Homo sapiens: one gene and its partners. The protein of the gene in region 1 interacts with the protein of each later gene in a pairwise test. Each region holds a gene or a part of one and is shown in the gene's direction. Other genes may lie near its edges.

What was found.
Region 2: the proteins of TAB1 (region 1) and ROR2 interact in a two-hybrid assay, tested with the Homo sapiens proteins (one study listed by BioGRID and IntAct).
Region 3: the proteins of TAB1 (region 1) and ZMYND11 interact in a two-hybrid assay, tested with the Homo sapiens proteins (one study listed by BioGRID).
Region 4: the proteins of TAB1 (region 1) and XPO7 interact in a two-hybrid assay, tested with the Homo sapiens proteins (one large-scale study listed by BioGRID and IntAct).
Region 5: the proteins of TAB1 (region 1) and AATK interact in a two-hybrid assay, tested with the Homo sapiens proteins (one study listed by BioGRID and IntAct).
Region 6: the proteins of TAB1 (region 1) and SERPINA4 interact in a two-hybrid assay, tested with the Homo sapiens proteins (one large-scale study listed by BioGRID and IntAct).
Region 7: the proteins of TAB1 (region 1) and HNRNPR interact in a two-hybrid assay, tested with the Homo sapiens proteins (one large-scale study listed by BioGRID and IntAct).

The regions. Positions count from the first base shown.
Region 1 is NC_000022.11:39,419,995-39,424,382, forward strand, and holds part of TAB1 (TGF-beta-activated kinase 1 and MAP3K7-binding protein 1), read left to right. Parts: intron 1-1,832; coding exon 1,833-1,977; intron 1,978-4,388. UniProt on the Homo sapiens protein: Key adapter protein that plays an essential role in JNK and NF-kappa-B activation and proinflammatory cytokines production in response to stimulation with TLRs and cytokines.
Region 2 is NC_000009.12:91,750,681-91,755,068, reverse strand, and holds part of ROR2 (tyrosine-protein kinase transmembrane receptor ROR2 isoform 1 precursor), read left to right. Parts: intron 1-4,388. UniProt on the Homo sapiens protein: Tyrosine-protein kinase receptor which may be involved in the early formation of the chondrocytes. It seems to be required for cartilage and growth plate development. Phosphorylates YWHAB, leading to induction of osteogenesis and bone formation.
Region 3 is NC_000010.11:239,335-243,722, forward strand, and holds part of ZMYND11 (zinc finger MYND domain-containing protein 11), read left to right. Parts: intron 1-103; coding exon 104-191; intron 192-721; coding exon 722-777; intron 778-1,558; coding exon 1,559-1,636; intron 1,637-2,686; coding exon 2,687-2,805; intron 2,806-3,259; exon of another isoform or gene 3,260-4,388. UniProt on the Homo sapiens protein: Chromatin reader that specifically recognizes and binds histone H3.3 trimethylated at 'Lys-36' (H3.3K36me3) and regulates RNA polymerase II elongation. Does not bind other histone H3 subtypes (H3.1 or H3.2).
Region 4 is NC_000008.11:21,925,765-21,930,152, forward strand, and holds part of XPO7 (exportin-7), read left to right. Parts: intron 1-4,388.
Region 5 is NC_000017.11:81,159,397-81,163,784, reverse strand, and holds part of AATK (serine/threonine-protein kinase LMTK1), read left to right. Parts: intron 1-4,388. UniProt on the Homo sapiens protein: May be involved in neuronal differentiation.
Region 6 is NC_000014.9:94,560,238-94,564,241, forward strand, and holds the start of SERPINA4 (kallistatin isoform 2 precursor), read left to right. Parts: upstream 1-1,204; 5' UTR 1,205-1,257; exon of another isoform or gene 1,258-1,478; coding exon of another isoform or gene 1,479-1,572; intron 1,573-3,228; coding exon of another isoform or gene 3,229-3,245; coding exon 3,246-3,894; intron 3,895-4,004. UniProt on the Homo sapiens protein: Inhibits human amidolytic and kininogenase activities of tissue kallikrein.
Region 7 is NC_000001.11:23,336,974-23,341,361, reverse strand, and holds part of HNRNPR (heterogeneous nuclear ribonucleoprotein R), read left to right. Parts: intron 1-341; coding exon of another isoform or gene 342-353; coding exon 354-510; intron 511-2,753; coding exon 2,754-2,872; intron 2,873-3,500; coding exon 3,501-3,608; intron 3,609-4,388. UniProt on the Homo sapiens protein: Component of ribonucleosomes, which are complexes of at least 20 other different heterogeneous nuclear ribonucleoproteins (hnRNP). hnRNP play an important role in processing of precursor mRNA in the nucleus.

The DNA.
Region 1 (4,388 bases):
ACTAGTGCCACAAGGGAGGCAGGCGAAGCCAGAGTTGGCATGGGATGGACAGACCAGGCCTGTTGGTCGGTGCTGCCCATGGCTGCAGCAGAGGTGTGAGATGAATTGTGTATTTCCCTCTGAGGACACCTCCTCTGGACATCACCCCAGCGCTCATGGCAGCAGAATGGGCAGTCATCATCACACGGCCAAGCCCGTGCAGAGCTCTGGATGTACCTTCTTTTATGCATTCCCTACTCAGGCCCCCTGAGGCAGTCACTGCCATCACCCCAGAGGCATTTTCATAAGAGGAAACTGAGGCATGGAGACATCAGGCAGCCCACCCTGGTCATGGGGCTTGAACACAGGCAGCCTGAATTTGGAATATGTGTCCTTAACCGTCAGGTAACCTGTATGTGAAGTGTTGGTTGGGGAGATAGGCGCGTCCACTTGCCTGATGCCAATCATGGCATTTAATGTCATGGCCAAGGCTGTTCCCAAAGCCAGAGTTCCCATCAACAGAGGCCTCATGGCCTAGAAAGTGCATGTTAGAACTCCTTGCCCTCACGCGATCTAGGCAACTGAGTGTCGAATATTTGTCCCTAATTTGTGGGGTCCTGTTTCCTTTATTGGAAAGGACATCCATAGTTTAAAACACTTCAGACAGTGCTGGGGTCTATACAGGGAAAGGAAGTCTTCCTACACCACACTCTAGGACTCGCTGCCTCCCCAGAGGCTGCTAGTTTCTTGTGTATCCTGTTCCAAAATCTGGCCACATGCACATATACACACACGGTGTCTCTGTGTGTGTGTGTGTGTGTGTGTGTGTGTGTGTGTGTGTGTGTTTGTCCTGGGGGCCAAGGAGCCTGCATCCTTTTCGGAACACCCAGGTGCTGGGGTGTCTCTCTCTGTGTGTGTGTGTGTGTGTGTGTGTGTGTGTGTGTGTGTGTGTGTTTGTCCTGGGGGCCAAGGAGCCTGCATCCTTTTCGGAACACCCAGGTGCTGGTGTGTCCTGCCCCTCCCAGGTGCTGGTGTGTCCTGCCCCTCCCAGGTGCTGGTGTGTCCTGCCCCTCCCAGGTGCTGGTGTGTCCTGCTCCTCCTTCTTTTCTTTTTTTTTAAACCCTAAGGTGTAATTGGCATATGCAAAGCTGTGCCTATTTCATGCATACAACTTGATGAGTTTGGAGATATGTTTACACACCCCTCACTGCTATCATTAAAGGTGCTCATCTCTTCATTCTGCTCACCTGCAGTTAGGATGGCGTCATTCTGTGTAATAACCGCTCCCAGGGCCCAGCCCTGGCTGACGGACCCTCAGGAAGTTCTTAGACTCCGCTCTTCTGGATGGTGTTGCCAGCACCTCCTCATGTACTTACCTCCATGTGCACACACATGTGTTGGCATGTAATGACTCTGACCCCAGTCACTAAAGGATCCCTGTACACATGGAGAGTATCTGGGGTCTCAGCCATCTGTTTTGGAAAAGCCCAAATAATAGCAAGAGGCTTGGGCTCCCAGGGATAATCCCTCCCTCTTGCTGTCCCACACCCTGCCCTGCCACCACCGGACCCTGTGAACAGGACGTATGGAACAGGCCAGAATCGGGCATTCAACCTTTGCCATCCTGACCTCAGCTGCCTGCCAGTTTTTATGGCCTTCCAAGCTTTATTTTAGCAGCTGCTGTAAGACGATGGGTCTATTTTTCTGACCTTCTCTTTCTCTCTTTTCTTTTCCTCTTGTCAGGTTGTGTGTTTTATTTTACATTCTGGGCATAGATTCCTCCCCTCAGCAGAATCAGCATCCACCTGCGGGCTGTTCCAAGCAAAGCTCTTCCTTCCACTCTCTCCCCATAGCGCTGCCAAGTCCAAACCAATCATCGCAGAGCCAGAAATCCATGGGGCACAGCCGCTGGATGGGGTGACGGGCTTCTTGGTGCTGATGTCGGAGGGGTTGTACAAGGCCCTAGAGGCAGCCCATGGGCCTGGGCAGGCCAACCAGGTGAGTTGGGCCCAGCCACGCCCATGGCCGGAGAGCGTGGCTGGCCTGCATGGTGATGTGCTCACCCTGCCTTCTAGCACTGTGATTCTCGGAGGCCGTCACCAGACATCTCTGGGTTCAAAGCTGGGGGAAGGAGAATCCCAGAGCTCTGAAAACACCCATCCCACCCAAAAACTTGACTCATTTTAGGCTTGAAGCAGTGCCAGTCCTCAGGGCCTGAGCAAGGTCTGAAGGGAAGAGGGGGAGATGGATGTGAATTGCTATGGGCACGGCATTACTCTGAGACGGCCAGGAAGGGGCCAGGGCCAGGAGGAGAGCACAGAAAGAGATGTGCAGAGTCCTTCCCACACCCATCACTTCCTGCCAAGGGCCTGACGGCTTTACTGCCCTCCCTGAGTGGCAGACAATTTATAGTTTGCTTCTCATTTCTTTTTTTTTTTTTTTTTTTTTTTTTTGAGACAGCGTCTCCCTCTGTCACGCAGGCTAGAGTACAGTGGCATGATCTCGGCTCACTGCAATCTCCGCCTCCCGGGTTCAAGCAGTTCTCTGCCTCAGCCTCCCAAGTAGCTGGGATTACAGGTGTCTGCCACCACGCCCAGCTAATTTTTGTATTTTTAGTAGAGACAGGGTTTCACCAGGCTGGTCTCCAACTCCTGACCTTGTGATCCACCCACCTCAGCCTCCCAAAGTGCTGGGATTACAGGCGTGAGCCACCGCGCCCGGCAGTTCACTTCTCATTTCTACAGTGAGGATGGTAACATCTGCCTTTGTGAGATCGCAGTGAGGTTAGGCGTGGTAGACACAGGCCCTCAGCCAAGAGTTGCTTATTTTTCTTATACCTTGGAGTCACCAAAGTGTGACTTCAAGACAGTCACGTTAGGGATGGTCTCAAAGGAAAACTGTCTTTCCCTGACCTCCTTGGATTGCTGACTGGCTAAGATAAGTTCAGTTTGTGTTCCTCCTCCTTTCTGTGATTCTTGTAGGAAGATAACCTTTTCTGCTTTGACTTTTTTTTTTTTTTTTTTAAGACTTGCTGTGTCACCCAGACTGGAGTGCAGTGGCGTGATCACGGGTCACTGCACCCTCAACCTTCTGGGTTCAACCGATCCTCCAGCCTTAGCCTCCTGAGTAGCTGGAACTATAGGTGTGTGCCACCACACCTGGCTAATTTTGGTTGTTTTCTTTGTTTTGTTTTTTTGGTAGAGACAGGGTCTCACTGTATCGCCCAGGTTAATCTCAAACTCCTGGTCTCAAGTGATCCTCCTACCTTGGCCTCCCAAGATGCTGGGATTGTAGGCATGAGCCACTGTGCCCAGCCTGCTTTGTCCTTTTTAATTAAAAATCATGTATTGGCCGGGCACAGTGGCTCATGCTTGTAATCCCAGGACTTTGGGAAGCCGAGGCAGGCGGATCACTTGAGGTCAGGAGTTCGAGACCAGCCTGGCCAACATGGTGAAGCCCCGTCTCTACTAAAAATACAAAAATTAGCCGGGTGTGGTGGCAGGCACCTGTAATCCCAGCTACTCAGGAGGCTGAGGCAGGAGAATCGCTTGAACCCGGGAGGTGGAGGTTGCAGTGAGCCAAGATCGCACCACTGCACTCCAGCCTGAGCAACAGAGCAAGACTCTGTCTCAATCAATCAATCAATATCATGAGGAAAAAGTCTTCTTTAAAATTTGAAAATTAATTTTTATTTCAGTAGCTTTTGAGGTACCAGTATTTTTTTGTTATAGGGATGAATTATGTAGTGGTGAATTCTGAGATCTTAGTAAACCAGTTATTCCAGTAGTGTACATTGTAAGTAATGTATAGTGTTTTATAGTGTACATTGTAACTAATGTATAGTGTTTTATAGTGTACATTGTAACTAATGTATAGTGTTTTATAGTGTACATTGTAACTAATGTATAGTGTTTTATAGTGTACATTGTAACTAATGTATAGTGTTTTATAGTGTACGTTGTAACTAATGTATAGTGTTTTATAGTGTACATTGTAACTAATGTATAGTGTTTTATCCCTAGCACCACTGCCATCCTCCCGCCTTGAGTCTCTAAAGTTCCATTATATCACTCTGTATGCCTGTGCATTCCCATCATTTAGCTCCCACTTACGAGTGAGAACATAGTTTGTGGTTTTCCACTCCTGTGTTACTTAGAATAATGGCCTTCATCTCCATCCAAGTTGCTGCAAAAGACATTCATTCTTTCCTTTTACTGGCTGAGTAGTATTCCATAGTTTATAGATACATTTTCTTTATCTGCTCATTAGTCAATGGCCACTTAGGCTGGTTCCACATCTTTGCAATTGTGAATTGTGCTGCTATAAACATACGTGTGCAAGTATCTTTTTCATATAATGACTTATTTTCCTTTAGGTAGATGCCCAGACTGCTGGATTGAATGCAGATC
Region 2 (4,388 bases), on another chromosome or scaffold:
ATCCTCCCCCTTCAGCCTCCCAAGTAGCTGGGACTGCAGGTGCGTGCCACCACACACCCGGATAATTTTTTCTTATTTTTTGTAGAGATGGGGTCTCACTATGCTGTCCAGACTGGTGACAAACTCTTGCCTCGAGCAATCCTCCTGTCTCGCCCTCCCAAATCACTGGGATTGTAGGTGTGTGCCACCACACCTGACCTAGAGGGAAGATATTTGGGAAGATTCTGTGCTGAGCAATAGTGATGGAGCATTTTTCCTTAATAGTCCTTCAGACACAGAGTAAGGAAAGAAGAAATTGCATCATGAGCACAATTATGGGGCTTTGGAAAAAGGCATATAAGTCATTTCAAAAGTTGAACTATTGTTCTCTCTTATTTTATATTTATGTCTTTTATTTTAGTTATTTTATTTTTTGAGACAGAGTCTCGCCCTGTCACCCAGGCTGGAGTGCAGTGGTGCAGTCTCCGCTCACTGCAACCTCTGCCTGCCAAGTTCAGGCAATTCTCCTGTCTGAGCCTCGAGTAGCTGAAATTACAGATGCGCACCACCATGCCCGGCTAATGTTTGTATTTTTAGTAGAGACGGGGTTTCACCATGTTGGCCAGACTGGTCTCGAACTCCTGACCTCAAGTGATCCGTCCACCTTGGCCTCCCAAAGTGCTGAGATTACAGGCATGAGCCACTGCACCCGGCCTATATTTATGTATTTTATAAATAAAACTTTTATAGTTCATTTATATATAGTTACATAAATATATTATGTAACTATATAATATATTGTAAATACATAACATATAATTACAGAGCTATAATTATACAAATATTAAACATTCATATATTTATATACAAATTGTAAATATATATATTTATATAAATTATTTCACAATATTTTTACATTGACTTTCTTCTCACTTTAAGTTATGGATTTAATCCACACATTGATGTAAATGACTGGGGCAGTTTCGGAAAGTCCCGCCTGACCTCCCATCCTTCCAGGCCTCCTGCCTCCCTTGTCATAAAGGTAAATCATCCAGGGAGTTTGTAGGCACTCAGTACATACATACATCTACCTAAGGAAATACAAAACAATCAACTTGAAAAAAGGTCTAAAAGCACATAAATTACTCAGTATTATTGAGGCAATGAAGAAATATGCTTACCTATACACTATTGATGAGAAATTTCTGGAGTGCTATTTGACAATAAACACAAAAATATTTTTAAAAAGAAATACCTCTTATCAGTTTTATATACTTTTTTACATAAATGATGCTATACTTGACATGTTTAGTTAACAGTATTCACAGAAATCTTTCCATCTCAGTGTATTTGAGGTTTCCAGATGCTCTCTTTCCCTGTTTCTGGACTCATGTGCAGAGCATGTGACTGTTCCATTGTGACAGGCATTCCCATCAGGGAAGCCTCATCCCAGCCACTCGTGCCACCGCGTCTCCCTTCCCTGGCCCTGAGACCTGTGGCTGGGTTTCTCTAGGAGAGATTCTGAAGAGGAAAAACTAAAGGGGCACAGGCATCCCCTTTTTAAAACTGATACTGCCAAATGGTCATTCGTAGGTTACTTTCCCGACAACGTCAAAGGACCCATTTCTCCTTATCTTCCATAAGATGACTTCCAAACTTGTTAACTTCTGCCACTCTGAAGGATGAAAAATGAATAAATGACCTGCTTTGTTCTCCATTTCCCTGGTTACTAGTGAGGCTGAGCATGTGGACACACATTGCTTGGCACTCATGTCTCCTCTTTGTCAATTGCCACTTCATATTCTTCGCTCATTTTTCCTTTACATTGTTTCTTAATGAATTTTGATAATTCTTTATGTCTTATTTCTTGATCATATAGAAATTAAAACTTTTACAAATTAATAATTTGTTTTTCATGTTATGTCTTGTTAAAGAATGTCATGATTTCCTTGAAAGATTCTGATGGTAGTTTGATTGGAATTACAATGAATTTTTAGGTCAGTTTGGTGAGAATTAATATCTAAATTGAATTTTCTTATCAAGGACTACTTTCCTTTGTGTTTTGAGGTGTTTTCTTTTTCTTAACATTTTATAATGAAAAATTTCAAACATACGGTTGAAAGAATTTTATAGTGGGCTCCTGTATACTCACCAGCTAGATGCTAGCATTTACATTTTACTGTGCTAACTTTATCACTTATCGTTCCATCCAGCCTCCATCTGTCCATCAATCCATCTGATTTTTCATTCATTTCACTGAGTTGCAGATACTTGTACATTTACCCTGAAATACTTCAGCATATATATCATTAATGAGAGTTCAGTATCTGTTTATGATTCTTGCTCCTCCTTCTTCAGTTAAAATTTGCATACCAGTGAAATGCACACATCTTAAGTATAGCACTATAAGGTCTGACAAATGCATAAATCTCTGCAATCGAAACACCCTATCCAGATACAGAATCTCTGTCACGCTTGCAGGCTCTGTCGTGCAACTTCCTAGTCAACTCCCTTCTACCCCAGGCACCCACTATTCTGATTTTTTAAGTAATGGACTAGTTTTTCCTGTTATTAAACATCACAGAAATGAAATCCTTCAGGATGTAGCCACTTAAGCCTGGCGTCCTTTTAGCATAGTGCTTTTGAGATTCATCTGTGTTGTACATGTATCAGTAGGTTACAGCTGTTTATTGCTGAATAGCATTTTATGGTATGAACATACGCGTTGATTTATCCATTCTCCTGTTGAAGGACACCTAAGCAGATTCCAGGCTTGACTACTATGAATAAAGTTCCTTGTATAGGAATACTCTATACTTTTTGTGGACATGCATTTTCATTTCTGTTAGTGTTAACTAGGCGTAGAATTGCTGCATTATAGGGCATGTGTGTGCTTAATTTTATAAGACATTCCTGGGCCTTCTCCTGAACTCTTTTTACCTCCACCCACAGTGTGGGAGACTTGTGATGACTCCACATATTTCCCAACATTGGTGTGGTCAGCCTTTTTAAGTGTAGCTATTCCGGTGTATGCAGTGATTCAAGTGATTTTTTATATCATTCCAGCCTCTTGAAAAAGCAATTTTTACTAGTCATTTTTAAATTTTCAAATAAATGTATTTAAAGCTGTAAAGTTTCCTCTGAATACCATCTCCCTGCTTCCACCACGCATTTAGGCTTCTGTTGTTTGATACTGTTTTCTGATTTTTGTTGCATTATTATTAGTGAATATGGGCTGTTTATGTTTTATTCTTGATAATTTATTGAGATTTTTCTTTGTAACCAGTTAGATACGGTCCATTTTTGTGAATCTTGCCTGTTGTTTCAAAAATACGTGTGCTTTGATGTATCTGCACATTTCTTGACTCATCTGTGAGATTGAGTATTAAGTATGTTATTAAAAATATCTATATATTTTTTATCCACATGAGTACCAGATACCTGAAGATTTGTGAAAGTCACCCACACTCAATCTGGATTTGCTAGTTTCTATTAGTTCTCTATTTTTAATATTTTGTGTGTATTTTAAGGTTATATAGGTTTTTGTGGGGTTTTTTGGTTTCTTTTTACAGTCCCTTTTAGTGCTTTTTGCCTTGAATTCAGTTTTGCCTAACAATAATAGAGTTCCACATGCTTTTTAAATTTGCATTTGCCAGGAACCGTTTTTATGATTCCTGTCCCACTCTTTAGTCTTTCACCTTTTTGTGTTCTGTTTTATGTAGGTCTCTTGTAAATGATGCATAACTAGACTTTTTTTGGGAGGTTGATGTGGAGACCTTTCCAGTCTGAAAGTCCATGTTAATACATAGTTAAATTCATTTTAACTAATATACAGTATTCCATTCTGTGAGTCAGTTTCCACTTGAATCATGCATTGACTGCCGAGTGAAGGTTAGTTCTTTTCACTGATAGGGACCCTCTTATAGTGACTGTGCATCCCAAGTCTCTTTGTCCCTATGGGTGAAAGTCCTCCAGGGACAGAGATCAGGAAGCAGGATTACGGGTGTGCATCTCCCACCTCTCCCAGGAATGGCCAGATTGCCCTCTATGATGGCCAAGTCATTCATAGCCTCACCTGCAACACATGAGTTATTATTTCCTCATGTTTTCTAGCACATGGTATTATCAGAACTTAAAATGTTGCCAGCATCTTAGGTGTCAAATAGTAATTTTACATTACATTTCACCAGTAAATAGTGAGGTTGAACATCATTTTGTCGTTCTAAAAGCCATTGCATTGCCTGTGTGTATCCAGCCTATCCTCATTATTTTCAGATTCCATATTTGCAAATTTGCTTATTCACTAAACTTCGTGTCCCCCAAATCAACACTCGTGGTATTTTCATGGTCATTCTTGGACATGCACAGAGTGGAGAAAAACCTGAGCTCCCTGACACATGTTTCCAGCT
Region 3 (4,388 bases), on another chromosome or scaffold:
TCCTGATGTCATCCTAGAAAAGACTGCTTGTCCTGTGAACTTAGTCCAGACAAGTATTTTTACTGGTAACTCTTTTCGTCATTCTGTTTTTTGCCCTCTGCAGAAAGTGAATGAAGGGAAATACCGAAGTTATGAAGAGTTCAAAGCTGATGCCCAATTGCTTCTCCACAATACCGTGATTTTCTATGGAGGTTGAATATTTTTGTTTTTTTTGTATGCATTTTTAAACACACCATTTACATTCCATGTTGAACACTATCTTTTATAAAACATTACTTTCAAAGAATTAATACCTTAATGATCTACAAGTTTAGAGTATAAGGTTAGGAATATCTGGTGATATAGATTATAGAATGGACTGGCCAAAAACAAAATCATAGTATACTAAATGATGAAAACACAATTACTCTTTACAGTTTTATATGTATTTGTTTTAGCTGAGAGGTTTTTAATAAGCACTATGATTAATTCTGATCATTTCCCCACTAGTACCACATCATCCAAAGGTAAGGTCATTCTCTATACCCTGAGAATTAGTGGTTGTATTGGATGGAAAACAAAAGCTGCCTGTGTAATTTTATTTTGCTATCGTTATTTTAAATGGACATTTTGGTTTGAAATGGTAGATGTCTACTTTTGCAAACTGAAAGAAAAGGATAGTAACTTTGAGTCTTGTATTTGCAGACTATTGCTTATAGGTAATATCTATTTTTAATTACAGCAGACAGTGAGCAAGCTGACATTGCGAGGATGCTATATAAAGACACATGTCATGAGGTACTATTCATTGCCCAATAGTTATACTCTTTCTATAACTGAAATTAATTTATTTCAGGATTCCACTCTTATCTACATTTTAGTTGTGCCATTTCCTTTAAATGTCTTTTATTGCCGGGCGTGGGGGCTCACGCCTGTAATCCCAGCACTTTGGGAGGCCAAGTTGGGCGGATCACGAGATCAAGAGATCGAGACCATCCTGGCCAACATGGTGAAACCCTGTCTCTACTAAAAATACAAAAATTAGCTGGGTGTGGTGGTGTACGCCTGTAGTCCCAGCTACTCGGGAGGCTGAGGCAGGAGAATCGCTTGAACGTGGAAGGTGGAGGTTGCAGTGAGCCAAGATTGCGCCACTGCACCCCAGCCTGGTGACAAAATGAGATTCTGTCTCAAAACAAAACAAAAAAAGGTCTTTTATTTTCATGTTTGACATACATGAGGCAAAGGTAAGGACTGCTGTGATTGGCAGCAGATATTGTTACCTTCCTGAGGAATATTCAGTCTGAAGTGCTAACCAGTGAGGTCCGGGCAGGGCCCAGTCAGACCAGCCTCAGCTTCTGTTCCAACTGTGGCCTGAGACCAGCGACATGGTTCTAAGAGGACAGTGACAGGGTCTTCCAGTACCATTTATTGAAAACTTTAAAATTTAGGCTTAAAAGATTAAGAAACAAAATTCAACACTATTTATATACGTGAATGTTAATTTACATGGATACATTTTATATAGTTTAATGTGTATGTATATTTTATGTAGGCTAAAGTAGTTTCTTTTCTTTTTCAGCTGGATGAACTGCAGCTTTGCAAGAATTGCTTTTACTTGTCAAATGCTCGTCCTGACAACTGGTTCTGTTATCCTTGTGTATGTGAAATTTTTACCTCAAGTGTGTAACATACAGCTCTAAGGAAGTTTATTTCCAGTTTGGTTAAAGATTATAATTTTCTTCCTAAATTTTTAAAATATCATAGTATATATGGGTTTAATGAGTATAAACAACTGAAAAAAAGTAACAGGGCTTGTTATCCATTTCTGATTTTAAAATGAGATACTGAATAAAAATAAATATTGGGTCCTTTTTCTTTTTGAGACAGGGTCTCACTCTGTCGCCCAGGCTTGAGTGCAGTGGTGTGATCTCAGCTCACCGTAGCCTTGACCTCCTCCAGGCTCAAGTGATTCTCCCACCTCAGCCTCCAGAGTAGCTGGGACCACAGGCACACGCCACCACACCTGGCTAATTTTTGTATTTTTTGTAGAGATGGGGTTTTACCATGTTGCTCAGGCTGGTCTCAAACTCCTGAGTTCAAGCAGTCCTCCCGCCTCGGCCTTCCAAAGTGCTGGGATTACAGGCATGAGCCACCACACCCAGCGTCTGGGTCCCTTAATAAAGTGAATTTTTGTTTCTCCTTTCATCCTTTCACAAGAGACCTAAGGCTTTGCCTTTGTCTGTAGCTGTATAATTTCCCCAAAATAATACAGCTTCAAACCGTGCACTGACAAAGGGAATTCTGAGCATTCTTGGCCGGCAGCCTTGGCTGCCTGAGAGAAGCCAGCCCTGTGAAGACAGTACTGTGCCAGCCTAAAATTTCCCCATTTCTAACAAATTCCCAGGGGTGCTGGAGCTGCTGGCTCCCCAGCTGCACTTGGCCAAGCGGGTGCTCTTGTTTGCCACCGTCATACATGTGGATGGCCTTGCTCCAGTCCCGACCTCTTCTGAGGAATAAGGTTCATGTTGGCACTCTGATGCAAATATAAAATCAGTCAATCCCAGAAAAAAAATCTCGTATGTGTTTAGGAGTTATGAAAGAAATATTTTAGAAATAATGGATTATATGTGACTAGTTTAATATTAATGGTACACTTGCATTTAATACTTTAAAAGTAATATAACAAGGTAAAACATTTAATTTCCAGATACCTAATCATGAGCTGGTTTGGGCTAAAATGAAAGGTTTTGGGTTTTGGCCAGCCAAAGTCATGCAGAAAGAAGACAATCAAGTCGACGTTCGCTTCTTTGGCCACCACCACCAGAGGTAATTTGTGATCCCATGTTCAGCGGTCACAGCTGTGCTTATGAAGTCCTTAAGAAAGTTTGATGATTTCTCCATCAGAGATGCATGAAGTTTATTTTAAATTGGAAAAAAAAAACACATTATGCATCCAAGAATACGTTCCAAGATAAATTGTTTCCAGATATTTTTCAGATATTGTGTACTAAACAGGAATTTTTAATAACTGACACTGTTGAACTTCAGAAGCACATTACGGTTAAGACTGAATTTATAGTACAGTGGGCAGAAGGGCCTCAGAATGTGTCCATTCCATAATATGGTAATGGAATTACCATTACCATATTCACAGTTACTCTAGTTGCTCCAGCCATCTTCAAGGCTCAGTTAAAGACATATAGACTAAAATCGTCAATCTTGTGATCTTACAATGTGTGTAAATACCTGAAGCGTGCGTGGAAATAAGCCATAATAGGAATAAAGAATTCACATGCAATTTATTTGGTTCATTTAACACAGATATTGAGATAAGGTGAAAAAGTGACAGAAACCAGCTACATGATCTAAAAGTCATACTTTGTAAGGATTTAAATGAACAGTCCATGAGGTGTCTCCTGTCATGCCAGGAGGTTATTAGTGCATAGAGAAGCTACACAATGAGGGACCTTACTCCTCCCTGTGGTAAATTTTTACTTAGTCTTCATTAATTTAATTTAAACAGAAGTGTAGTTATAAGAAACCTATAAATACTGTAAATTTCCCAGAAGGTAGTTCTGTTCTTTCATAGGTAGATACACACTTACCTGACACTGTCATGTCAAGAAACATTAAATAATGATCCAATAAAATAACTCAATACAAAATGAATGTTTTAATTACATTAAGTGGTAATTTTTAACATATGCTTAATACATCATACTCGGATGGTTTCAGTTTCTTATCAGAATAGGCAAGGAAATAATGTATTTTTGGTAGGTTAGGGTAAGTCTTTATGTGAGATTGTGTTCTTGCTTCACTGTCTTCTACCCTAATCTTGATACATTAGTCAGTTTCTCTGAGCCTTAGCAAAATAAAGGCCTCATAAGAGTTTTTGTAAGGTTTAAAGAAATGTTGCTACAGAGAGACCTGAGCATAGTACCTAGCACATAGTGAGTACTCAATAAATGTCAGCTTTTATAATACAACAGATATTCAAGGAATAACGGGGGAAAGTTTGCTTCAATGTTTTTCACATTAAATAAAACACAGTTAACTTAGAAAAAACAAGAATTCAGTTATTTTTATAGCCATACTAATAGGTAAGAATAATCTGATAATTAGAACTTTTTATCTATATATTTTTCTTTTTCATCAACTTGCAAGTAGCTTTATACTGTCTTCAACCATGAGTGATATTAATAATGAGTTAACTTGTTAGATGTCATTCAGTATACTATGCAGAAAATATTTTTAAAGAATATTTGGGTTAGGCCAGGCACGGTGGCTCACGCCTGTAATCCCTGCACTTTGGGAGGCCGAGGCGGCTGGATCATGAGGTCAGGAGATCGAGACCATCCTGGATAACACAGTGAAACCCCGTCTCTACTAAAAATATGAAAAATTAGCCA
Region 4 (4,388 bases), on another chromosome or scaffold:
TGTATTCTCTCCCCAATATAGCACCGTGTTCTCAATTCATATGTACATGTTTGTAAAATTCCTTAAAATATTTATGCTCAAACCAACATTTCCATTTTATCTATCTTAAATATATCTTCCTCTTCTTTACGCCTAATTTCTTAAACTCCCAGAGTTTTTTTCTGTAAGATCTAGTCATCTGTAGCACTTCTCACAAATTGAGCTCTCTTATGCCCCAAACAGTAACGAAAGAGGTCTCTTAGTTGGACAATAAGCAGTGAAAGATATTTCTTATGGGACAAGAAATTAACATTATTAGTCAAATGTTGATGCCGGTAGGCTGAGAAATGATTCTCACTTAAAAGCCCCTGGGTTTTAAACCTCTCTTAGAAAAACATTAGTTAGATGAAAAAAAAAATCAAAATATTTTCCTCTGGAAAACAATGTTCCTCTGAAAACAAGCAGATTATTAAAATATCCCTTGTACTACTTCAGGAAATTGTAATCTTATAACTGTAGTGGCCTTTTAGCTTTTAAATATATGAACTTGAGTTGGACACATGCTGATCTCATTGGTACTTTGCATGATAAGAAATTATGATATTTACAATGTGCAGTCTCAGAAAGAACTGAGAGTTTTGCTAGACATTTGCCCTAAAGTTTGAGTCAATTTATGGTTTAAAGGGGTGTATTTAAGGCTAGAAAAGGGAAATGAAGGGTTTTCTTAGGATTTTTTCCAATTCTATTTAAAATTGTTTGCAAAGTTTTGAAAGCATATGTCATGAGTTTGGCAAAAATTATTTCAAAGCTTGTTTTTTTTTTAACCTCATTCACCTCTGCTAACTCCTGAACTTCAGTGCTTTACTTCTGTCTTCCAAAAAGACGTTGTCTAAAATTAGTCATGAAATTTAACTTAACTGTAAGAACTTGAAACATAAAGTTTGCTCTGAAAAAGATCTGGGAAACCTGATGTATATTTCACATATCAATACATCTGTTGATGTATTGATAAAATCTATACATCTCAGTTGAAAAAAAATCTAAATTTTGCCCAATATATAGCCACAAATTATTTAGAATGTAATGTTCGTGTTAGTAGGTGATATTTTTGTCTTCAGCTTGTCATTGACCCATCTAAGGATCCCTGCGAGGTCTTGTCAAAAACTAGCCTGGGGCATACCCAAGAATTTTAAAGATTAAATAAAACTTACTGGAAAATGTGACCTTGTTTTCCTTAGTCTTAATATTTTGAACTGATAATGTTCCAGAACTGAGCAACTTTCTTCAGGCCTTCATAAAACCAAATTAAATTGTTTTTAGGTGAATTGAACCTGAGCAACAGGGAGTATTTAAGGACAGGCCAGGCAGGGGCACACATGCTTGTAGTCCCAGCTACTGGGGGGGAGGCTAAGCTGGGAGGATCACTTGGGTACAGGAGTTCAAGTCCAGCCTGGGTAACATAGCAAGACCCCAAGTCTTTTAAAAAAAATTAATTAATTAATTTAAATTAAATTCAAATAAAATAAGGACATTATCCCACAGGTGTTACAAATGAAAATTTGTTGTAATGTAAAGGATTATTTACTAGTTCTTGGAATTCTACAGTTAGCCACACTCCATACAGGGAGAGCAGAATGTTGTGAGCAAGAAGTTTTAATTTCACAGAATTCCTAAAACCTGTCCATTCAGAGCTGTTTGGTTTAGGTTACTGTTAATGTACCCTAGAGGTTCCCAAAGGCACATTTCGTGTTAACATTGATAGCATTGATAGGGTGAGACTTAAAAAAAACCAACCTTTTTTTTTTTTTTTTTTTTTCTTAAGATGGAGTTTTGCTCTTGTTGCCCAGGCTGGAGTGCAGTGGCGCAATCTCGGCTCACGGCAACCTCTGCCTCCCGGGTTCAAGCAGTTCTCCTGCCTCAGCCTCCCAAGTAGCTGGGATTACAGGCATGCACCACCACGCCCAGCTAATTTTGTATTTTTAGTAGAGACGGAGTTTCTCCATGTTGGTCCGACTGGTCTTGAGCTCCCGACCTCAGGTGATCCTCCTGTCTCGGCCTCCCAAAGTGCTGGGATTACAGGCGTGAGCCACCGCACCTGGCTGACCCAACTTCTTATCTATTCCTCCCATACCCGTCCCCTCAAATGTAAACAGCACTCACAAAAGTGGATATTTGGTTCATAGAGATTACTGTTGTGTAAATCTGTTGCCAGTGGAATAAAATCTTTCCTTTTTACTAAAATTTTATTCGTACAGTAAACTGCATCCATTTAAAGTGTACAAATTGACAGATACATACACCTGTGACTCCGGGATCAAAATATGGAACATTTCCTCTTTGCAGTCTGTTCCTCCCTCAGCTCTCAGACCCACACAACCCTGTTCTGCTTTCTGTCACTATAAATTAGTTTGCATTTTCTGGAATTTTATATAATGGACTTACTGTATACTCTTGTTTTCTGACTTCTTTCACTCAGCATAGTAACTCTGAGATTGATTCTCATTGTTGCATAGTAGGAGTGCTTGGTTACTTTTCATTGTTGCCAAGTATTCCGTTGTATGAATATATCACATTGGATGTATCCATTCACTCTTTGGGAGACATTCAGGTTGTTCCCAGTTTTTAGTCATTGTGAATAAAGATGCTGTGAATATTCATATACCAGTCTCTGTATGGATGTACATTTTTATTTCTCTTGAGTACCTGGGAGTAGGATGGCTGAGTCTTATTGTGTATGTTTACATTTTTAAAGAAACTGTCAATTTTCCAAAATGACTGTACCTCGAGTTATTTCATAACTTCGCCAACATTTAGTATTGTCATTCTTTTTGCCTTTCTAGTAGGATCTTGTGTTTTTAGTTTGTACTTCTTTGATGACTAACATGTTGAGTATCTCTTCATGTGCTTACTGACATTTGTATATCTCAGGCTTGCAAACCAGGCTGGTGTTTTGGCCTGACAGCCTGTTTTTGTATGGCCTGCACCCTGAGAATAGCTTTTACATTTTAAATGGTTGAAAACATCTAAAAGAATAATACTCCATGTTGCATGATAATTATATGAAATTCTGATTTCACTGTTCGTAAATAAGTTTTATTGGAACATGCATTCATCTATGTATCCCGTATGGCTATTTTTGTACCACAGTGGCAGAGCTGAATAGTCTTGACAGACATTTTGGCCTAAAATATTTACTTTCTGGCCCTTTAGAGAAAACATTTGCAGACTTCTGGTAGATCTTCTTTGGTGATGTGTCCCTTCAAATCTATTGCCTGACTTTTGGGTGGAGGACGTACCAGCCCAGTATGTTTCTAACCCAAGCCCAGTTTGACAGGAACTGCATCAAGTTCTTCAGTTGTACCAACCACATTTCAAGTGCTCAGTAGCCACATGAGGCTAATAGCTACCATATTGCATAGTGCAGATATAAAATATTTCCACTCTCATGGAAATTTCTATTGGACAGTGCTACTCTAGAATAAACTTGCCGCTGAACCAAAGGGATTAGAAGCAAAGTGGAACATAGGTTATAGGATTGCTTTCCTGGATGTCGATAAAAATAAGCTAGATCCTCGTCCTCTCAGATGTGTGTGAATGCAAATGGATATATTTTGTTATCCATGTATGTCCTGTTCTCTTGGCCAAGTGATGAGAGGAAGCAGTTAACTCATAAAAGAAATTCAGAATTTTACTGATAGGAAATAGTGTTTTAAGGGGAAAAAAACAAGTGTTAACTTATCATCTGCCAAAGCATTTTGCAAAGAACAAACCTTCTAAAATTCCCATATAGTTGTAACTGTTTTACAGATGAGATGGAGAATATGAAGGGAGATAGTAAACCATGAAATCACTTTTTCCTGGTGCTAAGTCCTGATTCACTAGCAATCGTAGTTCTCTTCAGCTTCTAATTTTAAAGTATTATTTACCATAAAGTTTTTCATAATAGCATGAGTTTTGAAAATAATTCAGAAATATTCTAAGTTGAAATGGCTAAGATAGCCTATTTTAAGATTGAATTTAAAGGGTTTTTTTTTTCCCACTGTAAACTGTTTTGTGTGACTGCGATAAGGGGCAGGCATAACTGACTCTAAAGAGTGAAGTGGAAGTCAGTAAATCTGTGATTACATAGTCATTCTCTTTGGCAAAAATATTATGTAATTATGAATTATTTTGTTCTTAACATAGAGATGTTTGTAAGTTTTTGGTGATTCATCACTCATGTCAATATCTCCCTAATCCATCCTAGAAATAAATGTTTTGCTGAAGTAGGAATCTAAATGCACCAGCTAACACTGAGAAGGTGGAGGAAATGTGTAATGAGTGGATGTTTTAGAGGCACCCAGAAGGATATGTTTTAAAACAACTTCTGCCATTTCTGGTTTCAAACATGGTTTTTGTCACATTCTCTA
Region 5 (4,388 bases), on another chromosome or scaffold:
GTGGTGGTACAGGGGGCAGAGACGCCCGATAGTGCAGGGCCTGAGAGTGGAGGCTGTGGGCACAGACTGTGGGCTGCCTGGGCCCCTGACCTTCCGCACCAGGCAGATGCGGGCAGGGCAGGGGGCACCCGGCCCAGGAGCCTGCTTGAGTGCCAGGAAGAGCCGCCTCCTCTGGAGCCCAGCTCTTCCCCCATCTCCCTGACACTCGGGAGCGTGGCTGGGGGATTTCTTGGCAGCTGCAGCCTTCCAGCCTCTGTGCTGTGTGGCCTCGGACTACTCACCCAGCCTCTCTGAGATCCGTTCTGCACATGTGAAATCTTGCTCTGGGGAGACTAGTGTGGGCATGGCGGCCAGGAAAAGCAGGGTGATGGGGGTGACACATGGGCAGGATGGCCGGGTCCAGGCTGGCAGGAAGGGGGTGGCATGGCCTTGAGCGAGCAGAGGTCACCCCTTCTACCTGAGTGCCCCAAGGGAGGGGGCTGGCCTTGTTGCTCACCCTCCCCAGCCTTCACCTTCCCTGGTGCGGCCTCAGGGCGTCATGATTTCTAGTCGTCCTGAGCCCTGGGGCCTGGAGCTGTCCTAGGCTGGAAGTGGGCATGGGGACACCGCCTCGCTCCGGCTTCTGGAGAGGCGCGCTCAGCCTGAGGGTGGGGGTCAAATGCTCTGCACAGTTAGGAGCAGGGGTTTGCCCTGGGGCCACCTCTGGTTTGCTGAGGGGCCCTTCTGTGACTGGCTCTCCATGCCTGTTTTGTCATCTGTAAGGTGGGAATGGCTGTGATGGCCAGGTCTGAAGGGACAGCAGTGGTGCACTGAGCCAAGGGTGGGTACCTGGGCAGTGCCTACCATGGCTGATCCCTGACGCAGAGGTGTCACTGTTGACCAGTGGGCAGGGCTTGGAGTTTGTGGAAGTTCTCGGAACACGTGGCAGCCTGGATTTGCCACCCCCCAACCCCCGCCTCTCCCCTGTCCCTCAGCTCACGCCCTGTCTCCTGCCCAAGGTCTCTCCCTGTGTCTGACCTGAACCAGGCGCCATGGGGGGTTCCTGGGAGAAGTGCCTGTGCCTGGCCACGGTGCTCGCTCTATCAGCATTCATGTGAACCGGACACCTGGCACAGGGCTGGGCAGGCTGGGCCTCAGGATGAGCCTATTGATGGGGAGAGGGCAGAGGAGGCAGCGAGCCCCGGGCCAGGCATGGCCTCAGTGGCAGGGGCAGGGCTGGACTCAGGGGCTCAAGGGGCTGAGCAGGAGGCCATGGGCCTGGGTGGTCCCCGGGAGTCCTCCCCTTGGAAGGTGCCCCACAGCTGACACTGCCCGGGCACCAGGTGTGGAGTCTGTTTGAAGGCAGCTGCTGCTTCAGTCTCCCAGACCACTCAGGCTCAGGCAGCAAGCACCTGCCCTGGGAGGAGTTACCTGTCCTCCTCTCGCCCCCGGGGTCTCAGAGGATGCCCCAGAGGAAGCTGTGCCCATGAGTTCGGCCCATCCCCCTACTTCCTCTCAGGTCTCAGGTCTCCCACCGAGACCCTTAGGCTGCAGGTGTGCAGGCCGAGGTGGGTTCTTGGAGAGGGTCCCATGGGAAGGCTGTGTGGACAGTGGCCTTGGGGAGCGGTCACACGCAGGCCGTGGGCCCTGGGCACGGGTCCGGCTCCCACCTACCAGCATGGGTGCGGGCACTCGGGGAGGGTGTGGGTGTCGGCACTCGGGGAGGGGGTGGGTGTGAGGCCCCACACTCCCAGGCATGGGTCAGGGAGAACATTTCTCTCATTCCGGCACATTCTCCAGGAGGCCAGGCTGTGCGCTTCCCTCCATGGGGTGGTGCAGTGACCCAGAGGACCGGCCCCTGCAGTGGCCACCCTGTGGGCCCGAGTGCCCCAGAGCTGGCTGGGGTGGGCTGGCAGCTGTTGTGTTGTGTGGAACATGCTGGAAGGTCTGCCTTGTGCCACCCTGCATGTTTGGGATGCATCGACTCCCCGCCATGCCCTCTGCCTCCCCGGCTCCCAACCCTGACCCTGCCTCACGGGAGAGTTCTGGCGTGGGCTGGTGTCCTGGGCCGGGCCCTGCTGTGTGACCATGGACAGGTCTCATAACTTCTCTGTGTCTGTTTCACCTCTGAAATGGGGTCCGGCAGCACCCACGCTCCAGGAGGTTCCTGAGAGAACCCGGGGGCCGTCACGGCAGCTCCAGGGCTGGTGACTGTTCACGTCCTCTCTGCACTCACCCACCACCCCGGCCGCCTGGGAACTGTGCTCCTGCCTGTGCCCCCTGGAGGCATGTGCTGAGTGGAATATGTCACCCCAAACCCATGCCCGCCCAGTACCTCAGAATGGGGCCTTATTTAGAACTAGGGTCTTTGCAGCTGTAATCAAGTTAAGATGAGGTCGGACCGGAGTAGGGTGGGCCCTGAATCCAATGACTGGGGCCTGATAGAAAGAGGAGGAGTGGCGTGCACGCGGGAAGGAGGCCACGTGCAGAGGCTGGAGTGATGCAGGCCCAGGAGCACCTGGGGCCGCTGTGCCGGAGAGGCAGGAAGGATCCCGCCAGCGCCTCGAGGGAGTGGCCCTGCCCATGCCGTGCTTTCCTCCTCCACTGTCCAGAACTGTGAGCACATCCATTCCTTGCCGTCTGGGCCAGCAGCCCGTGGTCCCAGGACACACATCTGGGGGTCTCCTTGGGTCTGAGGGGTGAGCACAGCTGCCTCGAGACATCAGGAGCCTCTGACTCCATCCTGAGAAGAGTTATCCTTGGAAGAAAATGAGGCCACGTGCTAGCCCCCAGCCTCAGAACCCTCCAGGGCGCTTGGCTGGGTGTGAGGAGGAAGCAGGCCGGGGCCACAGCTGCGTGGCATCCTCTGCCTCCTCCTCGGTCCACGGGGGAGGCAGAGGGTCCACGGAGCACCTCGGTGTCTCCTCGGATGTGGTGTCGGCGGTGAGCCTGGGACCACGCTGTTCTGCTGTCACCGGCCTCCTGTCTCCAGCTCACGGGGTTCTTCCGGGGTAGGCTTTTCTCGAGGGCCACCTGACCCCTCTGTGCACGCCAGGGCAAGGCTGACGGGAGGCCCACTCGACCACTCCTGGGTGGGAGCCTGATGCAAAGCACCTGCCGTGGGGCCTCGGCCTGCGGTCCTGTCCCTGGTGGCACAGATCCAGGGGCCCAGGAGCCCGTGTCCGTGGTGGGGAGACTCCCGTCCCCTCCGCAGGCCACAGTGACAGGAGGGCTTTGGCGTCTGGGCCCCCCTGGGCCTTGCCCTGCCTTTCACAGAGGAACAAGCGCCCGCGGGACCGGCGGCCTTGGCCTCCCCGCCCCCCCGCAGAGGAAGCCGGCAGAGGAAATGAGGGCAGCGGACGGGGCCGGAGCCAGTTCCCAGGCACCTCTGAGAACTGTCACGGGAGGCGGCGTCCTCGCCGGGTCTCCAGCCTCCCTCCGCAGGGACCGGGGCCTGGGGTCAGGGGGCTGCGGCCTTGGGTGGGGCTGGGGCGGGCTGGGGTCCTCCCGGGGGTCACTCTGGGGTTACAGCCACGGTCAGAGCCACGCGGGAGCGACACCCAGAGCCTGGTACGTGGGGGTTTCTGGGAGGATGCGGGCTGTGCTCCCACTGCCAGCCTGGGGGTGGGGGCCGTGGCCAGGAGACTCCTGCTCCTGCAGGGACCCTGCCAGCGGAGGTGGCCGTGCCAGAGCAGGCAGGGCCTCTGCAGTGGGCGATTCTGGGCAGCCGGGGCCACCTGCCCCAGGGGGAGTGAGGGGCAGGATGCTACCCCGAGCCAGGGCTGCTCAAGGCCACCTCTCACGGCGGGGCGTGGCCAGCCTATCCCCATCTCACCCTCGGGGAGGGTGTGGGGTCCCTGCTGCTGAGGGACAGGAATCTGGCTCTACCCACCTGCCAGGGTCCCCAGGAAGACCCCTCCCTGTCCCTGGTATCGGGTAGCCCTGGCCAGCTGGCCTGGGGGAGCCAGGCTGGGGGGCAGGGGAGCTGGTCCGGGACCAGGGCTCTGCCGAGTCACCTCTGTGCCAAGGCCACGGTTTGAGGCTGTGGCTTGAGGCCGTTGTGGGATGGAGCTGGGGATGCCGTCCTCGGTGTGAGGATCCTCCGACGAGGCCCTGGTGCTCGGTGGGGCCCCTCTGGCTTCCCTTCTGCTCTGCTTCTGGGAATTCTTAGTGACTCTGAACAAGGGGCCTTGGGTTCCCTTGGTACTTGGTCCTGCGGATTCTGCAGCCGGTGGGGCTTGCTTAGGGTTTGGGCTCCGCTGTGAGGCCCACGTGGAATTTCCTCGAACCCCCTGCGAAAAAGGCGTGTGGCTTCCTAGTGACCACGGCACACACAAGTGCGCTCTGACCTCCGGGGTGCGGGTCCGGGGCTTCCCCGCATTGGATTTACCCGCGCGGCAGCACGCCCA
Region 6 (4,004 bases), on another chromosome or scaffold:
GAGCTAACAATGTCTCCGGGCTTACATTTTCTCATGTGTAAAATGGGCCAAGCTTAGTATACCTAGAGTGTATAGGCAAGGGAAAGAGAGAGATGAGTGAGGGAAAGCGAGAATCCACTGAGACAGTAGCTCTCACTTTGCCTGACCTGCTAGCTTCCTCTCTTGTCCTGGTGTTGACCCATTTTGGACCTCAGGCCAGCTGGCTCCAGGGCTGTGCTTGTGCCTGCTCTGCCATCCCCATGTCTACATCGCTCAGGGCTCCCAGCCCACTGTGCTGCTCAGTGGTGTATATTTCACTTACCTTAAGGCCCAACGACTTGGAAACACATCCAGAAAGTCTGCTAGAGGATGCCTGAATGGTCAAGGTCATCTCAGTCAGGGCACCCAGGGCCACATTGCTCCCTGCAGTCCTTCCCCACATAGCTTGAGAAATGGCTGCCCCAGGAGGGTGCAAGGGTGCAAGGGTGCAGGGGTTCACTGATTACTGGGGAGAGAACAAGTTCAATTCCATGGTTAAAGAAGAAAAATGCAAATTGAATACCTGGCCCAAGGAGGTTCCTGGTCCCACCCCATGCCACCCTTGCCCTGGGATGTACTCTCCTTATGGTCTGACCTATGAGATCTCAGTGGACTCTATCCTCAGAAATCACAGAGTCCAGGATTGCAAACTGGAGGCCCTGCTGTGAGGCCCTGCCCACAGGTGGGTCTTGCCTGGCCTGTAGAGAGCTGGCTCTCTCACTTCCACACATCCCCACCATTCCCCACCGTGGCACCATGGAGTCTTCCTTACCTGATCTAGGAAGGCGGCGCTGGAGCTTGCTGCCCCCTGTCTGATCCAGCCCCTCATGTTGTAGGAGGGAGGTGGGCGACTGAAGCTCAGAGAGGGAGTAAATGAGCTCAACTTCACACAGCTAGTGAGGGGCTGGTTGGAGACCAGATTTTCCAAGTGGTTCCCCGGGCCCTCGGGGAGCAGCAAGGGCCAGGCGAACCTCCATGCACTGCACAAACATGAAGAAGTGAACCCTCTTGGGGTTCCCCAGGTGGGAAGTGGGGTGTCTTCTTGGGAGGGGGTGAACCAACTTCTGGTGAGTTTTCCTTGTTGAGGCAATGCTGCACCCGTAGCCTGTTTGTTAATAATTACCTGGTCGGGAGAGAGTGGGTGGTACTGAGAAGGCCTGGTTTGACCAGTCCTCCTGGGCTTGATAAGACAGAGCTGAGACAGCCACCCAGGGGGTCCACTCCAGGACAGACTGTGCCGTGAGTAACCCCCTGAGACAATGGAGACGAGAGACTCTAGAGGGAGGGTGACCAACTGTTCCACTTTGCCCAAGACTGATAATTCTTCTGGGATATATTTTCAGTGCTAAAACCAGGAAAGTCCCAGGCAAGCTGGGACACTTTGTCACTCTTGCTAGAGGTGAGAAATACTCAGGCTAGAAAGGCCCCGACTTAGGGTCCATGGGCACTGGTGGGTGACTATGCCCGGAGACCCAGAAAAGCCTCCCCCAGGGACACACAGCTGGTACAGGGCGGCACTGACTGAGGGCCAAGGTCTTCTGGCTGCCAATCCAGGTGATCTTGGGGAGCTCATGCCGGAGGGGAGGTGTGTCTGTGAGTGATGCGGTCCTATGTATGTTTCTAAATGATCCCTCCAACTGCTGAGTGGAGAACAGAGAGCAGAAAGACTAGGAAGCTTTCTGCAAGGGTCTAGGTCAGGGGTCAACAAACCACAGCTTGTAGGTCAAATCCGGCCCACCGCCCATGAGCTAAGAATGCAAGATGTAAAATATAAATATAAAATATAAGTGATAAGTATAAAAGATAAATATATAAAGCTATGAAAAATCAATAGAAGAACAACATTTTGTGACACAGGAAAATAATATGAAATTCACATTTCAGTGTCCGTAAGTGAAGTTTCACTGAAACACAGCCACGCCTCTTCATGCATGTCCGGTCTGTGGCTGTTTCCAGCTGCCACAGCAGAGTTGGGTAGTGGCAGCAGAGACTGTGTGGTCTGCAAAACCACAGATATTACTATCTGGCGCTTTGCAGAAAAAGTTTTCTGAGCCCTGGTTGAGGATCATAGCAAAAGAGGGGGCGAGAGGCTGAAGAACCTACAGGAGAGTCTAGGAGTTGGAGACCAGCTTGGGCAGCATGGTGAGACCCCAACTCTATAAAAAATTAGCTGGGTGTGGCTGTGCATGCCTGTAGTTCCAGCTACTTGGAAGGGTGCATGCCTGTAGTTCCAGCTACTTGGAAGGGTGAAGTGGGAGGATCACCTGAGCTCAGGAAGTCAAGGCTGCAGTGAGCCATGATTACACCACTGCACTCCAGCTTGGGTGACAGAGTGAGACCCTGTCTCAAACAAACAAACAAACAACCAAACAAACAAAAAAAACCCAACCCTGCAGGTCATGGAAGTGGATTAAATGGATTTTGGGTGGATAGAAGCCTAGAAGCTTTTTGGCCTGACAACCGGATACTGGTGGGACCATTTGATGGGGCAGGAGCAGATTTGGGGGAGAAACTGGAGTATCCTTTCTTGGACAGATGTTCATTATGAAACGGGTACCAATTCTATCCCCACAACTTTGGGCAGGTCACTTATTAAACATCCATGTCCTTGTCTGTACGGGGTAACAATACAAAGACCAGTTCTACTGACCTCTACAGGGGTGGGAGGGTCAAACTAAATGGCTGAAAGTGGTTTGTAAACCATATAAAGCACTCCACAGATGTTTGTGGAACAGACCCTAAAATAAACTCTGAGGATAGCCATCCTCCATGCAAAATCACTGCACTAATGAAATCAACTCATCTGAAAGACAAGTGTGGGAGAAGCAGCACCTGAGTCTGGGGATGTGGGTTCTGGCTGGGATATGTGCTAGGTAGGTGACTTGGGTGAGTCACTTTGGGAGTCTTCATTTCCTGCTCTGTTGGGTGAGAATGGAGTCTAGTGCTGTGCAGAGCTCACACAGGTGGGAAACACAATGACATGATGGACACAAGGAGTGTGCCTTGTAAGTCTAAAACATTGCCATCCAATAGTGTTGCTGTCACCATACATGTGGAAGGTGGTGGGTGTTACATTGCCTTTCACAAGCCCATCTGCAGGAGTTGAGGGTGTCACTCACGATCTCCGGGTGCTGGCCCACTGCCAGCCTTCTCAGTAGGGCCAGGTGTTCTTCTGGGGGAATTTCCTGGGCATTCTCTTCCCTCCCATAGGCCTGAGAGTGCAGAGGATGCATCTTATCGACTACCTGCTCCTCCTGCTGGTTGGACTACTGGCCCTTTCTCATGGCCAGCTGCACGTTGAGCATGATGGTGAGAGTTGCAGTAACAGCTCCCACCAGCAGATTCTGGAGACAGGTGAGGGCTCCCCCAGCCTCAAGATAGCCCCTGCCAATGCTGACTTTGCCTTCCGCTTCTACTACCTGATCGCTTCGGAGACCCCGGGGAAGAACATCTTTTTCTCCCCGCTGAGCATCTCGGCGGCCTACGCCATGCTTTCCCTGGGGGCCTGCTCACACAGCCGCAGCCAGATCCTTGAGGGCCTGGGCTTCAACCTCACCGAGCTGTCTGAGTCCGATGTCCATAGGGGCTTCCAGCACCTCCTGCACACTCTCAACCTCCCCGGCCATGGGCTGGAAACACGCGTGGGCAGTGCTCTGTTCCTGAGCCACAACCTGAAGTTCCTTGCAAAATTCCTGAATGACACCATGGCCGTCTATGAGGCTAAACTCTTCCACACCAACTTCTACGACACTGTGGGCACAATCCAGCTTATCAACGACCACGTCAAGAAGGAAACTCGAGGGAAGATTGTGGATTTGGTCAGTGAGCTCAAGAAGGACGTCTTGATGGTGCTGGTGAATTACATTTACTTCAAAGGTGAGAGTCAGATCATTGGTATATGCTAAATCCACACCACCGCCTCCAACCCACTAATTTGTTGACTGGTTAAATATATTTTTACAAAAATGTAAGTAAAAACGTTGTGT
Region 7 (4,388 bases), on another chromosome or scaffold:
GGGGCTTTTTAGTAAAGGATTTTGTAGTGATTTTGATCTTTTCACCAGGACAGAACAGCTGCTTTTGTTAATCAGCAATTCTACCTTCAGTAAATTAAAGCCTTTATCTTACCCGGTGTACATGAAGTTCCTTAAAGATCTAATGCTTCCATGTACATTTTCTATGGTTTTACAGGATTATTATTGCCAATTTAGGTCAGATACATCACAGGAGGAATAAATTATTATTTTGATAGAGGTTATTAGCAGCATGTATACAAATTAGTTTAGATAAATCATGCATTGTCCTACAAACTAGTTATTTCTGGCTTAATGTAATATAGCTCCTGAATTTTTTCCAGCAGCATAATAAAATGGCTAATCAGGTGAATGGTAATGCGGTACAGTTAAAAGAAGAGGAAGAACCAATGGATACTTCCAGTGTAACTCACACAGAACACTACAAGACACTGATAGAGGCAGGCCTCCCACAGAAGGTGGCAGAAAGACTTGATGAAATATTTCAGACAGGTATAATATGCATTTCTTGTTTCTGACTGGTTATGAAAGTGAGGGCAAACCACTTTGAATTTTATAGTTTTTTAAGGTTAAATAATACTTATTGTTTCTGATCTGTAGAGCTGAATGTTTGTTACTTTCCCTTCATTGAAGGCATATTGGGTTTGACTTTGATACTCTTATTTCATTATTTTGAAGCCTTCTTAGTGTTGAATATGCAGTCTTAGTTGTTTCAGAACAGCACATCGATTTGTCTTAGATTTACCACCCATAAAAATGTATGTTTCTGCATACCAAATTTTACATTTTTTTCTTAATCAAAATCAGTCATCATTTTGCTTTTGCTTTTCTACTTTTACCTTCTTAAAGTGATTGTTAAATCAGCTTAGGTCTGATTAGGTGGCATAACAAGAGGATAGCTGTATCGTCTGAAACCATAATAAATGTCAGACTCCTTGAGAGTTTGTGGCTTGTCTAGTTTCTAATAGAAATCCACATCTCTCCGTAATTTGGAAGTGTTTGGTTGTAACAGCTGCTTCTTTTTTTTTTTTTTAATCCAGAAGTGCCATGGTTAAGTGCTTAAGCAAATTTGAACATCTTAATATAGTTGGTTGTAAGTGGTTTGAAGTTTTAAAGAGGGAGAGAAATATTTACCCTTAGGGAGCGTTGTTCATAAATGAATGTGTCCTCCTCCTTTGGGGACATAGATGGAAACTTTCTTCCTCTGTGTTGTGTGTGCCTATTCAGATTCTGAGAGAGAATTGAATTGTCTCACTCACAAATGTGTCTTAAGTACAGTAGTAGCAAATAGCTGTTTTTTTTTTTTTGTCCTTAAAAAATTTTTAAATCTGGGAAGCTTAGCATAATTTTAGACATTAAAATGACTTATAAAAATGACTCCTGGGTCATGGTCGCATTTGAAAATCAGTCCTCAGGAACTTTCTGTGACATTCTGCCATAGAGAATTGGCAGTGATCTGCTTAGAGATGCTCTCTTGTAGAGTGTTTTGTTATTGATAAGAGGCTGATGGTTTGGGCGTAGACTTGGTTTGACAAAATGGATTGATGGGTGTCCTGAGTTGTGGCTTCGGGTGGTGGTATGGAATATTCAAGTGAGGCAGCTCCAGTTATTTACACATGCTCATTTCGAGCTTTTGAAACAAATCATGGCAACTTTTTTAAAAAGTAACTTTGGAAGTGGCATTACATTTATTTAAAATTTACTATATGGAATAAAGTTCTTTTTAGCTTTATCAAAATGGAGTCACTTTTCATGTTCATATGAACTTGGGGGTTTTAATCTACGAAATACTTGCATTTTACGTTGGATCAATTCTGAAATATATTCCATATGTAAATATGACACAAACTTAACAGACTTAAGAAATTATATTTTAAACTTAGTAGATGTTCTGTGTGCAGTTGAATATACTTACATATATGAAATGCAGTGTATATATTTTCTGTCAAGTTTACTTGTAAGACCATAAAGTCTTTATTGCCATTTGAAAATGATTGTCGTTCTTGACAGTCAATGTGAATGCCACAGCATCTTTTAAATCTCAGCTTGTCACTTCAGAAGAACAAAGAATGCCTTAAAGTATGACTTTCAGAATTGATTAATCAAGCTGCACTTGCATTTGTAGAAGTTTAAAATTATGCCTTTCCACATTCTGACTGCAGCAAAGTGGATGCTCAGATAAACAAATGCATTTCAGTTTATCTTTGGTGTTCAGGAGGGAAAGCCTTTTGACACTTTTTGGAGAGTGGAAAGAATTACTTAGTAAAATTTGTTTTCAGATTTTCCTCCACCTCTTAGGTGGTTAGCATCAACTGTAACCGTCTGTAATTTGAAGGTTTATCCTTGGAAAACGCAATGTATTCTTATCACTCTAATATAAACCAAAATTTGTTGTATTAATGCATAATCTGTAATACAGTATGTACATCAGATTTAACTTTCAAGACTTATACCTTTGGGGGAGTGGGAAATGGATGTTAGGATTTGGCGGGGGAGGTTTGTGGATATGGAGATTGAAATTCATGTTTTTGGTTGTTGACATTTTATCTTTATTTTCATATTTGTCCTGGACCTTTCTATGTAGTATTTGGATAGCTGCGTATATGCATATAGTTAAATGAAAATACAGTTTGTTAGTGATCATATTGAATGTAACAATTCTTGATTAAACGTCAGTAGAGCTTAGATTACCCCTTTTGTTGCAATAACGTTACCCCTTTCAATTTAATTTTTAGGATTGGTAGCTTATGTCGATCTTGATGAAAGAGCAATTGATGCTCTCAGGGAATTTAATGAAGAAGGAGCTCTGTCTGTACTACAGCAGTTCAAGGAAAGTGACTTATCACATGTTCAGGTAAGGTCGTTACTCAGAAATGTCTTTGAACAATTAGTAATCTGAAATTATTTTACTATTACTTTTTTTCCTATGGAGAAGTGGTATTTTTTGTTTGTGACTACCTCTTCTTTTAAAAAATTAGTTTAAAGGAAAAAAACTGCTTGTGGCAGAGTTTCAGAAGCCCAAGTATAAAGCAAAAGTTTTCTCCCACCCCCTTGTGCAGTAAGTTATTTTAAAAACTTAAAATTAAAGCCAAGTTTTGATGGTTGTTACTATAGGTTTTTACATGTTACTCAGCTTTTTAACATTTGGGGGTTATTTGATCCTGTTTTATTATCTTGGAGGAAAATGTAGGTGGGAGGAATAGTTTCCGACATCTGGCAAAGACAGTCTAGATACAGTCACATATCAACAAGTGGAAGACTGTGTTTTCCCAGGGTAGAAGGTAAGCTCCCTGAGGTCTATACTGCCTTACTGCTGTCTGCTCCAATCTCTGGCACATAGTAACCACTCGGCAAATACTTGTTGAATGAATCAGTAAATCTTTTGTTAAAATCCTGGTTTTCTGAAATTTAAATTTAATTATGTATCTGACCCTTCAGATATTTTTGGTGATTCTTTTTATTGAATTACTTGTCTGTTCTAGAACAAAAGTGCATTTTTATGTGGAGTTATGAAGACCTACAGGCAGAGAGAGAAACAGGGGAGCAAGGTGCAAGAGTCCACAAAGGGACCTGATGAAGCGAAGATCAAGGTAAAACTTGACTTGGGTAGTTGTAATGAAATTGCATTTAATGATGAGGTCAAATGCCTCTTTCCATGTTTCCTAGAAAGTTTCACTTTTTTTTTTTTTGAGACGGAGTCTTGCTCTGTCGCCCAGGCTGGAGTAGCGGCGCAGTCTTGGATCACTGCAAGCTCCACCTCCCAAGTTCATGCCATTCTCCTGCCTCAGCCTCCCAAGTAGCTGGGATTACAGCCATGCACCACCACACCCAGCTAATTATTTGTATTTTTAGGAAAGATAGGGTTTCACTGTGTTGGCCAGATTGGTCTCGATCTCCTGACCTTGTGATCCGCCCACCTCGGCCTTCAAAGTGCTGGGATTACAGACGTGAGCCACCACGCCCAGCTGAAAGTTTCACTTTTCAAAACTAGTGTTTAGAAATGAAATAATTTAGAGGAATTACATAAGAAGGATAATTTTGGGGATCGACACTCAATTGCATGTTTAATGAAAAGCCCTAATTCATACTCTTCCTCATTCCCTCTTTTGTGGCCATGAATGACGTATATTTATTGATGCTTCGCTGGTAGTTTCTTGGATTGATCCAGTAATGTCTCTTGGTTCAGTTATTTTCCAGCCACTTTGTTTCTTTTCTCTTGATAAAAAGGTTATAACTTGATAAAAAGTTGTTATAACTGCTTTCCTCCTTTTGAATATTCAGTTACCTCAGTTTCTTTATTTATAAAATGGGGATAGTAATAGTGACTACCTTACAGAGTTATTGTAAGGAGTAAATGAATTAACATATAT